3 linked regions of the Homo sapiens genome follow. The gene in region 1 interacts genetically with each later gene. Each region holds a gene or a part of one and is shown in the gene's direction. Other genes may lie near its edges.

The links.
Region 2: changes in DCTN2 (region 1) and UBA2 together harm fitness less than expected from each alone (positive genetic interaction), as found in Homo sapiens cells (one large-scale study listed by BioGRID).
Region 3: changes in DCTN2 (region 1) and COX6C together harm fitness more than expected from each alone (negative genetic interaction), as found in Homo sapiens cells (one large-scale study listed by BioGRID).

The regions. Positions count from the first base shown.
Region 1 is NC_000012.12:57,533,575-57,537,223, reverse strand, and holds part of DCTN2 (dynactin subunit 2), read left to right. Parts: intron 1-1,378; coding exon 1,379-1,475; intron 1,476-1,678; coding exon 1,679-1,740; intron 1,741-2,069; coding exon 2,070-2,168; intron 2,169-2,771; coding exon 2,772-2,932; intron 2,933-3,126; coding exon 3,127-3,271; intron 3,272-3,649. UniProt on the Homo sapiens protein: Part of the dynactin complex that activates the molecular motor dynein for ultra-processive transport along microtubules. In the dynactin soulder domain, binds the ACTR1A filament and acts as a molecular ruler to determine the length.
Region 2 is NC_000019.10:34,455,809-34,459,457, forward strand, and holds part of UBA2 (SUMO-activating enzyme subunit 2), read left to right. Parts: intron 1-2,960; coding exon 2,961-3,116; intron 3,117-3,649. UniProt on the Homo sapiens protein: The heterodimer acts as an E1 ligase for SUMO1, SUMO2, SUMO3, and probably SUMO4. It mediates ATP-dependent activation of SUMO proteins followed by formation of a thioester bond between a SUMO protein and a conserved active site cysteine residue on UBA2/SAE2.
Region 3 is NC_000008.11:99,887,140-99,890,788, reverse strand, and holds part of COX6C (cytochrome c oxidase subunit 6C), read left to right. Parts: intron 1-3,170; coding exon 3,171-3,284; 3' UTR 3,285-3,299; intron 3,300-3,649. UniProt on the Homo sapiens protein: Component of the cytochrome c oxidase, the last enzyme in the mitochondrial electron transport chain which drives oxidative phosphorylation.

The DNA.
Region 1 (3,649 bases):
TAGCTGGGACCACAGGCACGTGCCACAATACCCAGCTATTTTATATTTTTTGTAGAGTTGGGGTTTCCCTATGTTGCCCAGGCTGGTCTTGAACTCCTGAGATCCACCCGCCTTGGCCGAACTTTGGGAGGCCGAGGCGGGTGGATCACTTGGAATTAGGATCCTCCCAAAGTGCTGGGACTACAGACAGGCTTGAGCCACCATTGCCCGGCTGTCTATTTAAAAAAAAAAAAAAATTATAAGTGATTCTAACATGCAGCCTGGGGTGAGAACCATTGTTCTAGGTGAAAGAAGGAAGGCTCATTTTGCCTTCCTCCCATAGAAGGTAGAGATGTCATCCCCAACAGAAAAGGACTCCTGGGTCTCCCTCCTACTTCCATCAGTACTCTGTTGGGAGCTGTCAGGCTTCTGACAATTGAAAAAGGGACATGCAGTCAGGAGTGCTTGGTGCAGTCTTGGTGTTGTCACTGGAATCTGAACAGCATGTAGATATCTAGTAAGGAGGGAACCTCTCTGCTTCAGTTTCTAGGGTGAAGTCTCTTTCACCGCCTACTTGTGTCCCCTGTTTTTGGAAGAGCTTCAGTGCTTAAAGCATAGCAGAGGAGTCAGGGAGAAAAATCAGGTGCTGCAGCGTCTCTGAAGAGATGCTGGTTTATCTCCATTTCAGAGCTTACATGTGGCTCTTGCCCATGGATACTCTTGGCAAGCAGATATTGCCTATGTTTGTTGCTTCTAAGATGTCCCATAAAGATAATCCAGTAAGCCCTTGCCCCTTCTCCCTGTCCCTGAGTTCGCTGGCCTCATGGCAGCCTGGAAATCAGGCTTCTGGTCAGGCCCTCTGTCGGCCTTCTTTTTGTACTAAGAGCTTGTGTCTTACCTTCAACAGGTTTAAAGTCCTAATATTCACACTCAGTGTTAGTGGCCTGATTATCTGCCTTCCCTCCTCTTTCCTTCTAGCAAGGATGGGAGGTTAGCATTAAAATGGACTTGCTCAGCGGGCAAGATTTACTTTTGGGAGGGGGAGGTTAAAAGAGGTCAGGTTGGTTTCTTGCCTTGAGTGCATGGCGTGTGCCAGACAACTGGGAGGGGTAGCATGGGGGGATGGGAAGGCTTATGTACAGAGAGGGTGGGGAGGTTATGCTCCCTCTGCTCCCAGTTGAATGAGGGTGTTAATATTTATACAACTGAGGCTCCAAATTTACCAGGAAGCTTCAGTTTCCTAGGTTAAGCCTGGGTAGGCGCCTTGGAATAGAGCCACCCTTCTTTCCCCTTGGACAAGTAGGGCCCAGTCACCTAATGGTTTGGGGATTTTGTGGGGTAGAGTAAGTTCTAGAGTGGGAATGAGTGTGTCCCTGGCCTAAACTACCTGTTCTTGCAGGAGGAGCTGACAAGCACAAGTGTGGAACACATCATTGTCAATCCTAATGCTGCCTATGACAAGTTCAAGGACAAGAGAGTGGGGACAAAGGGACTTGGTGAGACTGGGCTGGAAGCTGGGTGGGGGGAAGACTGGAGGATAAGCATGAGAAGTGGTTTCCTGTCCTAAAGTCTTAGTGAGTTGTGCTTGGGGGAAGGGGTCCCTCATGGAGATATTTTATGGAAGCCCTCACAGTCACCTGAGACCATGACTGCCTTGGGCCTAGATCAGGCCCTCAGTTCCATCTTCTTTTCTTGGCAGATTTCTCAGATCGTATTGGAAAAACCAAGAGGACAGGATATGAATCTGGAGAATATGAGATGGTTTGTTGTGTGTGTGTGTGTGTTGATGGGAATGGTGTAGTGACCCTATCTAGCAGACATGTAGTAGGGAGATCAAGGGATACAGGCGGGATTCTGTTCCTCCTCTGTTCCTGAGGAAGCAGCAGGATGCAGCCAGGGAAACTCTGCCCTACTGCTGTTTGTTCTGGAGAGCCTCCAGCCCTCTAGCTGTCCTCAGTTCTTTGGTACTAGGGTGTTGTGGATTCTCAATTGGATATGATACCTTTATGACTTAGGCCCAGGGTGTGGATGAATTCTTGAGGCTCCCTGTAATGAGACATATAACATTACCCTCTGTGCCTGCTCTCTAGCTTGGAGAGGGTCTGGGAGTGAAGGAGACACCCCAGCAAAAGTACCAGCGCCTACTGCATGAGGTCCAAGAGCTGACAACTGAAGTTGAAAAAATCAAGGTAACTACAAACTCTCTTCTCCCTTCTCTGCTGTGACTTACACAGTAGAGGAAGACCTCAAGCAAGAAGAGAAAGATTCCCTGCCTGGCTGGGTGCGGTGGCTCACGCCTATAATCCTACCACTTTGGGAGGCCGAGGCAGGCGGATCACCTGAGGTCAGGAGTTCAAGACCAGCCAGGCCAACATGATGAAACCCCATCTGTACTAAAAAAATACAAAAACTTAGCCAGGTGTGGTGGCGCATACCTGTAATCCCAGCTACTCGGGAGGCTAAGGCAGGAGAATTGCTTGAACTCGGAGGCGGAGGTTGCAGTGAGCCCAGATCATGCCACTGCACTCCAACCTGGGTGACAGAGCGAGACTCCATCTCAAAAAATGAAAGAAAGAAAGATTCCTTAAGCTCCTGGATAAAGGGGCTAAGGTTTCCAGAGTTTACAAATATGCATCCATCTGTATGCAGTGCTACATACAGGTGGGCAGTCTGTCATGCTGAAAACCATCCCAGTGACCTCCAGCTACAACTACCTTTAAAGGGCTTGACCTATTTTTTTGCTTCTTGATTCATTCTTGCCATCCCCCGATTTCTACCTTTTTTCATACTAGACGACAGTGAAGGAGTCAGCCACAGAGGAGAAGCTGACCCCTGTGTTGCTGGCTAAACAGCTGGCAGCCCTGAAGCAGCAGCTGGTTGCTTCCCACCTGGAGAAGCTGCTGGGACCAGATGCTGCAATCAACCTTACCGACCCCGATGGCGCCCTGGCTAAGTGGGTACCCTACTTTGTTGAAAAATCATTGCTGACTGGGGTTGTGGATGGACTCAGCCAGCTACTGACAGGGGTGCTAAGTGGCAGAGAAGTGGCTTAGATGTTTCTTAATGCTGATTATGAGGCAAAAGTGAGGGAGAGTGACTGGCCCTTCTCCTTCCAGTCATGATATTATTACTCGGTCTCCTAACTAGGCGCCTACTACTGCAGCTGGAAGCAACAAAGAACAGCAAAGGGGGATCAGGGGGAAAAACCACTGGGACCCCCCCAGATAGCAGCCTTGTCACTTATGAACTACATTCTCGGCCTGAGCAGGACAAGTTCTCTCAAGCTGCCAAAGTAAGTGTGGATACAGTGTTGGTTGGGAAGCCAAGGGGAGATGTGACCCTAGAGATTTTCCTGCCTCTCTCCAAGGAGAGGGTGCTGGGAAGGCTTCTGATTCCTCTGATTCCTCTTGATTGATTCCTCTTTTGATTCCTGATTCGTTGTTCTCTATGTTTCTTTCTTTTTTTTTTTTTTTTGAGACGGAGTCTTGCACTGTTTCCCAGGCTGGAGTGCAGTGGCGCAATCTTGGCTCACTGCAAGCTCCGCCTCCCGGGTTCACGCCATTCTCCTGCCTCAGCCTCCTGAGTAGCTGGGACTACAGGCACCTGCCACCACGCCCGGCTCATTTTTTGTATTTTTGGTAGAGATGGGGTTTCACCATGTTAGCCAGAA
Region 2 (3,649 bases), on another chromosome or scaffold:
ATTTTTGTATTTTTAGTAGAGACGGGTTTCACTATGTTGGTTAGGCTGGTCTCGAACTCCTGACCTCATGATCCGCCCACCTCGGCCTCCCAAAGTGCTGGGATTACAGGCATACAGGCATGAGCCACTGCGCCCGGCCTTTTTTTTTTAAACTGATGGGGTCTTGCTATGTTGTCCGGGTTGGTCCTGAACTCCTGGGCTCAAGCAGTCCTCCCACCTTGGCCCCCCAAAGTGCTGGGATTACAGGTGTGAGCCACTGCACTTGGCCCGATGCGCTCTTTTTTTCCTTTTCTTTTTCTTTTTTTTTTTTTTTTTTGAGGTGGAATCTTGCTCTCACCCAGGCTGGAGTACAGTGGAGTACAGTGATGTGATCTCGGCTCACTGCAACCTCCACCTGCTGGGTTCTAGCGATTCTCCTGCCTCAGCCTCTCAAGTAGCTGGGATTACTGGCACATGCCACCACACCTGGCTAATTTTTGTATTATTAGTAGAGACGGTGTTTCACCTGTTGCCCAGATTGGTCTCAAACTCCTGGCCTGAAGTGATCCGCCCTTCTCAGCCTCCCAGAGTACTGGGATTTCAGGCGTGAGCTATTGCGCCCAGCCTCGATGCACTCTTAAAATATTTTATTTTCATGAAATTTCAGTTTGAAGGAACAGAATCAAATTGCCCAGTCTGCCATCTTGATTTAGTTTTCTATTTAAACTTTTATTGTATATGTTATATTTTTAATTTCTAAGAACTTTATTTTTTGGTATCTTTTTTTTGAGATGGAGTCTTGCTCTGTCACCCAGGCTAGAGTGCAGTGGCGCGATCTCAGCTCACTGCAACCTCCACCTCCCAAGTAGAAGTGATTCTCCTGCCTCAGCCTCCCCAGTAGCTGGGATTACAGGCGGGTGCCACCACGCCTGGCTAATTTTTGTAGTTTTAGGAGAGACAGGGTTTTACCATGTTAGCCAGGCTGGTCATGAACTCCTGACCTCAGGTGATCTGCCCACCTTGGCCTCCCAAAGTGCTAGAATTACAGGAGTGAGCCACCGTTCCTGGCCGATACCCAGTTTTTAAATTATTTAAAAAAAATTTTTTATAGCAGCCTGAAGCTGTAGTATCCCTTTGAGCTCACCAACAGTACTAATTACTGAACTTATTAAAATGTCTGTTATTTCCCATCACATCCTTCCGGTTTCTTTGCCTGCTTAGCTCCATGCCACTCTTGGACTATTAATAGTAATATATCTGGCCGGGCACGATGGCTCACACGTGTAATCCCAGCTCTTTGGGAGGCCGAGGCAGGCAGATCACCTGAGATTGGAAGTTCGAGACTAGCCTGACTAACGTGGAGAAACCTGGTCTCTACTAAAAAAAAAAAAAATATATATATATATATATATATATATATATATATAAAATTAGCTGGGCATGGTGGTGCATGTTTGTAATCCCAGCTACTCAGGAGGCTGAGGCAGGAGAATCACTTGAACCTGGGAGGCGGAAGTTGCATTAAGCCGAGATCGCGCCATTGCACTCCAGCCTGGCAACAAGAGCGAAACTCTGCCTCAAGAAAAAATATAGTAATATATCTGGATTTCATTTTTTTACATTTGCAAATGAATTCCAGCCTGGATTAATGTTAGCCCAGGTATTAATAGTGGTAGCAATTGCTTTTATTATTGTCAGTTTCCCTTAGCACACTTACCTTCCCGGTGAAGCCCAAAATCAAACAAATCTTTCTCCCTCTGTAGCCTGCTTGGCCTGGGCAGTTTGCTTCTAGCCCTTCCACCTACCAGTATTCATTGTACGGAGAAGCTATTTTACAGAGGACGGCTTTAGTGTCTCTTGAGGGATTTAGTTCTGTATTCTCAGGGGAATCCGTAGAGTACTCCTTTAGAATTCATTCCTCTTAGCAGACTCAACACTACATTGTAGTCACAAGATAAAGGTTTGTGTCTCAGCTTCTTGTCTTCTGACATTTGTTGTTTCTGTTGGATCTTGCTAGTGTTTTCTAAACTTTAGTAGAAGCAGGAGCTTGGAGCTTTTCTTAATTTCAGTGTAATTTGTATATTTGCCTTGGTTCTTAATTATTTTTTTGTTTAGTATTAGAGAAATGGTAAATAGGTACATATACTGCCAGAAATACATTTTTTTCCCTCATTATATAAATGTTATTCTAATCAGAAAATTTGGGAAGGCAGTGATGTTGATTCTAGACAACTGTGAAAGGCACTATCGTTAACTGGAGAAATTAATGTGTTGGTCTTGTCAGGAGATTGCTTGCTTGATAAGAATAGCCTCAGGGAGGGACACCAGCTGCTGATACAATGATGGCACCACAGATTAACATGCCTGTGCCCTTACTCTTGCCAAATCAGGTTGCAGAAGAACGCGGAGTCTTATATAATACAAGGAGATGTCTTTTCAGCAAGCCTAGCTAGCCTAGCCTTTAGCTGATTAGAAAAGAAGGTTGAGGCCGGGCGCGGTGGCTCACGCCTGTAATCCCAGCACTTTGGGAGGCCGAGGCGGGCGGATCACGAGGTCAGGAGATCGAGACCATCCTGGCTAACACGGTGAAACCCCGTCTCTACTAAAAAAAAAATACAAAAAATTAGCCGGGCGAGGTGGCGGGCGCCTGTAGTCCCAGCTACTCGGGAGGCTGAGGCAGGAGAATGGCGTGAACCCCAGGGGGCGGAGCCTGCAGTGAGCCGAGATTGCGCCACTGCACTCCAGCCTGGGCGACAGCAAGACTCCGTCTCAAAAAAAAAAAAAAAAAAAAAAAAAAAAAAAAAAGAAGGTTGAAAAACCAGGTTCCTAAAAAGGTCATGATTTTCCTGATCCATTTTGCCATCTGGACGGGAATTTTTAAGTCATTTTTTATTGGATATCTGGTAAACGAGATTTTAGATTGTATGGCGTATAAAATTACAGCACGTTTCCGATTTCTGCCTGTTATTTCTCCTCCAAAGATTTTTTTGAATAAACAACCAAACCCAAGAAAGAAGCTTCTTGTGCCTTGTGCACTGGATCCTCCCAACCCCAATTGTTATGTATGTGCCAGCAAGCCAGAGGTGACTGTGCGGCTGAATGTCCATAAAGTGACTGTTCTCACCTTACAAGACAAGGTCAGTGCAAGGCCTGGGTCTCTTTTCCTTTTGCTTTTACAGTATTACTGTGATGACAAACAAACACTAGCTGCTGATTCTGAAAAGGTCCAACTGCAGAGATGTGTGGCTGTGATTTCCTGGGTTATTTTGCCTTCTGGATTCCTGCAGGCTTTTCTGTCTGTGGTTCCAGAATAAGTGCCTCACATTCCCAGAATGGAGTAGGAGTATTTGACTGGAATCTGCAGCACAGTGGTGGCACAGTATCACAGCAAGCAGAGGACTTCTTTGCTCTTTGCTTCCCAGGCAGTGGGTAAATTCTGTATTTTTTGACAAATAACAGGTATCCTTGAATGGTCCTCACTGTGGCAGTGAGCAGATAAGTATTTGCATGCAGTGCAAAGTTTGCATTTCCAGTAGAGCAAAGCCCCAGTTACCAGCTTTGTATTAAAGGGTATAAGTAACTTGCAGAGTTTTGGTTTCTCTGCGTGTTGGACAGTGCCCACTCCCAGCAAATTAGGGGGCTTTTGTTATTTCTGAGGTCTGAGTTGAGG
Region 3 (3,649 bases), on another chromosome or scaffold:
TTTTAATCAAAGGCTGCACATTTACAACTTTTCCGTAAAAATGTTTTTGATAATATGTATATGTTTATCATGCTTGTCATAATACCCCATGAAAGAATTCAGAGCTTTGCTTTTATAACTCTTTGTATTTAATTTTTGTTTAGTGTTTATGTTCTTTACTGGGCTGTGAGCCTCATTAAGGCAGGTACCATGTCTTTTGTTTACTGTGGCACCCTGTTGTTGGGTGCCTGACACACAAATAGGTTATTAAAAGGACCTGTTGAATAAGAGGCAGTGTATAAAATTCAGTACAGTGTTGGGTAATGTAGAGTTTCAAGTGCTTTGGAGGACACAAAAGGCATGTAGCTAAATCTCTGTTCTTAAAGAACTTAGAGTCAAGTTGGGGAGGTGAAAAAAATTAGAAGACATTGCAAGATAGAACATAACTGAAAGAATGGTTTTGGGGGATGTTGTGGTTCACAGTTATTGTGGGTCATAGCTATTTGATAGAGGAGGTGGAATTTGAGCCTTGCAAGTTAGGGAGAGGGGCTGGGTCTGGTGTCTCATGCCTGTAATCCTGGCACTTTGGGAAGCTGAGGTGGGCGGATTGCTTGAGCTCACGAGTTCAAGACCAGCCTGGGCGATATGGAGAAACTACGTCTCTACTAAAATACAAAAATTAGCTGGGCCTTTCTTCTTTTTTTTTTTGTTTTTTTGAGATGGAGTCTCACTCTGTTGCCCATGCTGGAGTGCAGTGGCGTGAACTCAGCTCAGTGCAAGCTCCGCCTCCCGGGTTCACGCCATTCTCCTGCCTCAGCCTCCTGAGTAGCTGGGACTACAGGCGTCCGCCACCACACCCGGCTAATTTTTTGTGTATTTTTTAGTAGAGACGGGGTTTCACCGTGTTAGCCAGGATGGTCTCCCATCTCCTGACCTCATGATCCGCCCGCCTCGGCCTCCCAAAGTGCTGGGATTATAGGCGTGAGCCACCGCACCCGGTCGCATTTCTTCTAAAAATACAAAAATACATGATGTGCCTGTGGCCCTAGCTACTCAGGAAGTTGAGGTGGGAGGTTGGCTTTAGCCTGGGAGGCAGAGGTGTCAGCCAAGATTGGGAGGCGAGGCCAGGTACAGTGGCTCATGCCAGTTATCCCAGCACTTTGGGAGGCTGAGGCGGGCAGATCACCTGAGGTCAGGAGTTCGAGACCAGCCTGGCCTACATGGTGAAACCCCATCTCTACTAAAAATACAAAAAAATTAGCCGGGCGTGGTGTCGGGCACCTGTAATCCCAGCTGCTCGGCAGGCTGAGGCAGGAGAATTGCTTGAACCCAGGAAGGGGAGGTTACAGTGAGCCGAGTTCGCACCATTACACTCCAGCCTGGGCAACAAGAGCGAGACTCTGTCTCAAAAAAAAAAAAAAAAAATTGGGAGGTGGAGGTTGCAGTGAGCCGAGATCGTGCCGCTGCACTCCAGGCTGGGCGATAGAGCCAGACTTTGTCTCAAAAAAAAAAGTTAGGGAGAACTGGGAGAGCAAAGAGGAGATGGAACACTGAGTGGGAGCACTAAGTGGACCTATGCTTTGGGACTCTTTGGAGAGACAAGCACACAAAGTCTTTTGGTCCTTGAGATTCCTGCTGCCTGGCATATATAGTGGGCATGAAGTAAATGTTTGTAGAAGGGATGGATGTGATGCAGAATTTTTGCTCCTTAGTTTAGCTAAATTTGGGTTCTTGTGTCATGACCAGGAGGAATTAGGCACATGGAAACATTGAAGGGTGAGGAGGGCTGAATTTATTGGGTGAAAAGGAAAAAAGAAAACAGACTCTCAGCAAAGCAAGAGGGGGTCCTGCTAACAGGCCCCCACCTCACAGATTGAATACTAGGCTACCACACAGGAGCTGAAGAGACTAGGCTCCTCCCCACTGCACAAGGTGCAGCTTCTCCTGGTTCCACCCTGTTCCCCCAGTGTGCCTGTGGCCATTACTCAAAAAGAATCAGTCCTGAAAGGGTGGGCAAATGTGCAGCTCTCCCTCAGGGTCGTGGGATCTGGGTCCAACAGTCTGGCCTTTCAGCCTTCAGGCTGTTTTAGGCTTGAAGGTGGGTTTTTGCTAGGACCCTTGGCTGTCTCTCTGTCAGATGGATGACTAAGTGAGGTAGGGAGAGTCCAAATTAACCGTACATGTAATGATGGCCCCCAGCACTTGTGCTTCTGCCTCTTTTTATTTTAATTTTTTCAAGACGGAGTCTTGCTCTGTCACCCAGGCTAGAGTGCAGCGTCACCATCTCGGCTCACTGCACCCTCCGAGGCCTCCCAGGTTCAAGCAATTCTCCTGCCTCAGCCTCCCAAGTAGCTGGGATTACAGGTGCCCACCACCATGCCTGGCTAATTTTTGTATTTTTAGTAGAGATGGGGTTTCATCATGTTGGCCAGGCTGGTCTCCAATTCCTGACCTTGTGATTCGCCCCCCTTGGCCTCCCAAAGTGCTGGGATTGTAGGCATGAGCCACCACGCCCGACCTCTGCCTCTTGATTTTATTACTGGGAAGAAATTGGGAATTCAAATAGAAGTGAAGCAGTAAAACTGGTCAGGTAAAGGATTCTTACTGCGTTACTCCATCAAGTAGCATGATTTCTGTGTATTTCTGCAGAGGGAGACCCCATCTTTTTTATTTTTTATTTTTTTTTTATTTTTTATTTTTTTTTATTTTTTATTTTTTTGAGACAGAGTCTCGCTCTGTCCCCCAGGCTGGAGTGCAGTGGTGAGATCTCGGCTCACTGCAACCTCCGTCTCCCGGGTTCACGCCATTCTCCTGCCTCAGCCTCCCGAGTAGCTGGGACTACAGGCGAGACCCCATCTTTAAAAAAAATAATAAGTCACTTAAACTTTCCATTTTTGTCTTGAATCTTCATTTTTTCTTTCTCTGTTGAACCCCACCCACCCTTTGTGTACGGAAACCTCGAACAAAACAAAATAGACACCTTATTCCCCATTCTTTTCTTTGCAAATTTAGCAGTTTCTTAGACTTTGTCTTCCTTTTTATCTGTCACCACCTCCACCCCTTAGGAAATGTAGGGTTTAAATTAAAGGGTGAACAAAAACATGTGTTCTACCTTGTCTTTATATATTATAATCTGGAATCTAATTTCCAGTAATCTGAAAAATAAACTCTAATGGATGGTTGCTTTTTAGTTTCGTGTGGCTGATCAAAGAAAGAAGGCATACGCAGATTTCTACAGAAACTACGATGTCATGAAAGATTTTGAGGAGATGAGGAAGGCTGGTATCTTTCAGAGTGTAAAGTAATCTTGGAATATAAAGGTAATATGGTTATTTGAAGTTACTTAAAAAAAAATTTCTAATTGTGGTAAAATGCAAATACAGGTGACTGTCCCTCACAATGTTTAGACTTAAGATTTTTTGACTTTACGATGGTGTGGAAGTGATACACATTTGGTAGAAACCATACTTTGAATTTTGATCTTTGTCCACATGAGCAATAAGTGGCACAATACTTTTGTGATGTGGGGGAGCACCAATGACCACATCCCCCAGTCAGAAACATAATCACAAGGGTAAACAGCTGATGCTGTACTCTGTAGTGTTGTGTGAGATACTCAGTGTTTTATTATAAGCTAGGCTTTGTGTTAGATGATTTTCTTCAGCTGTAG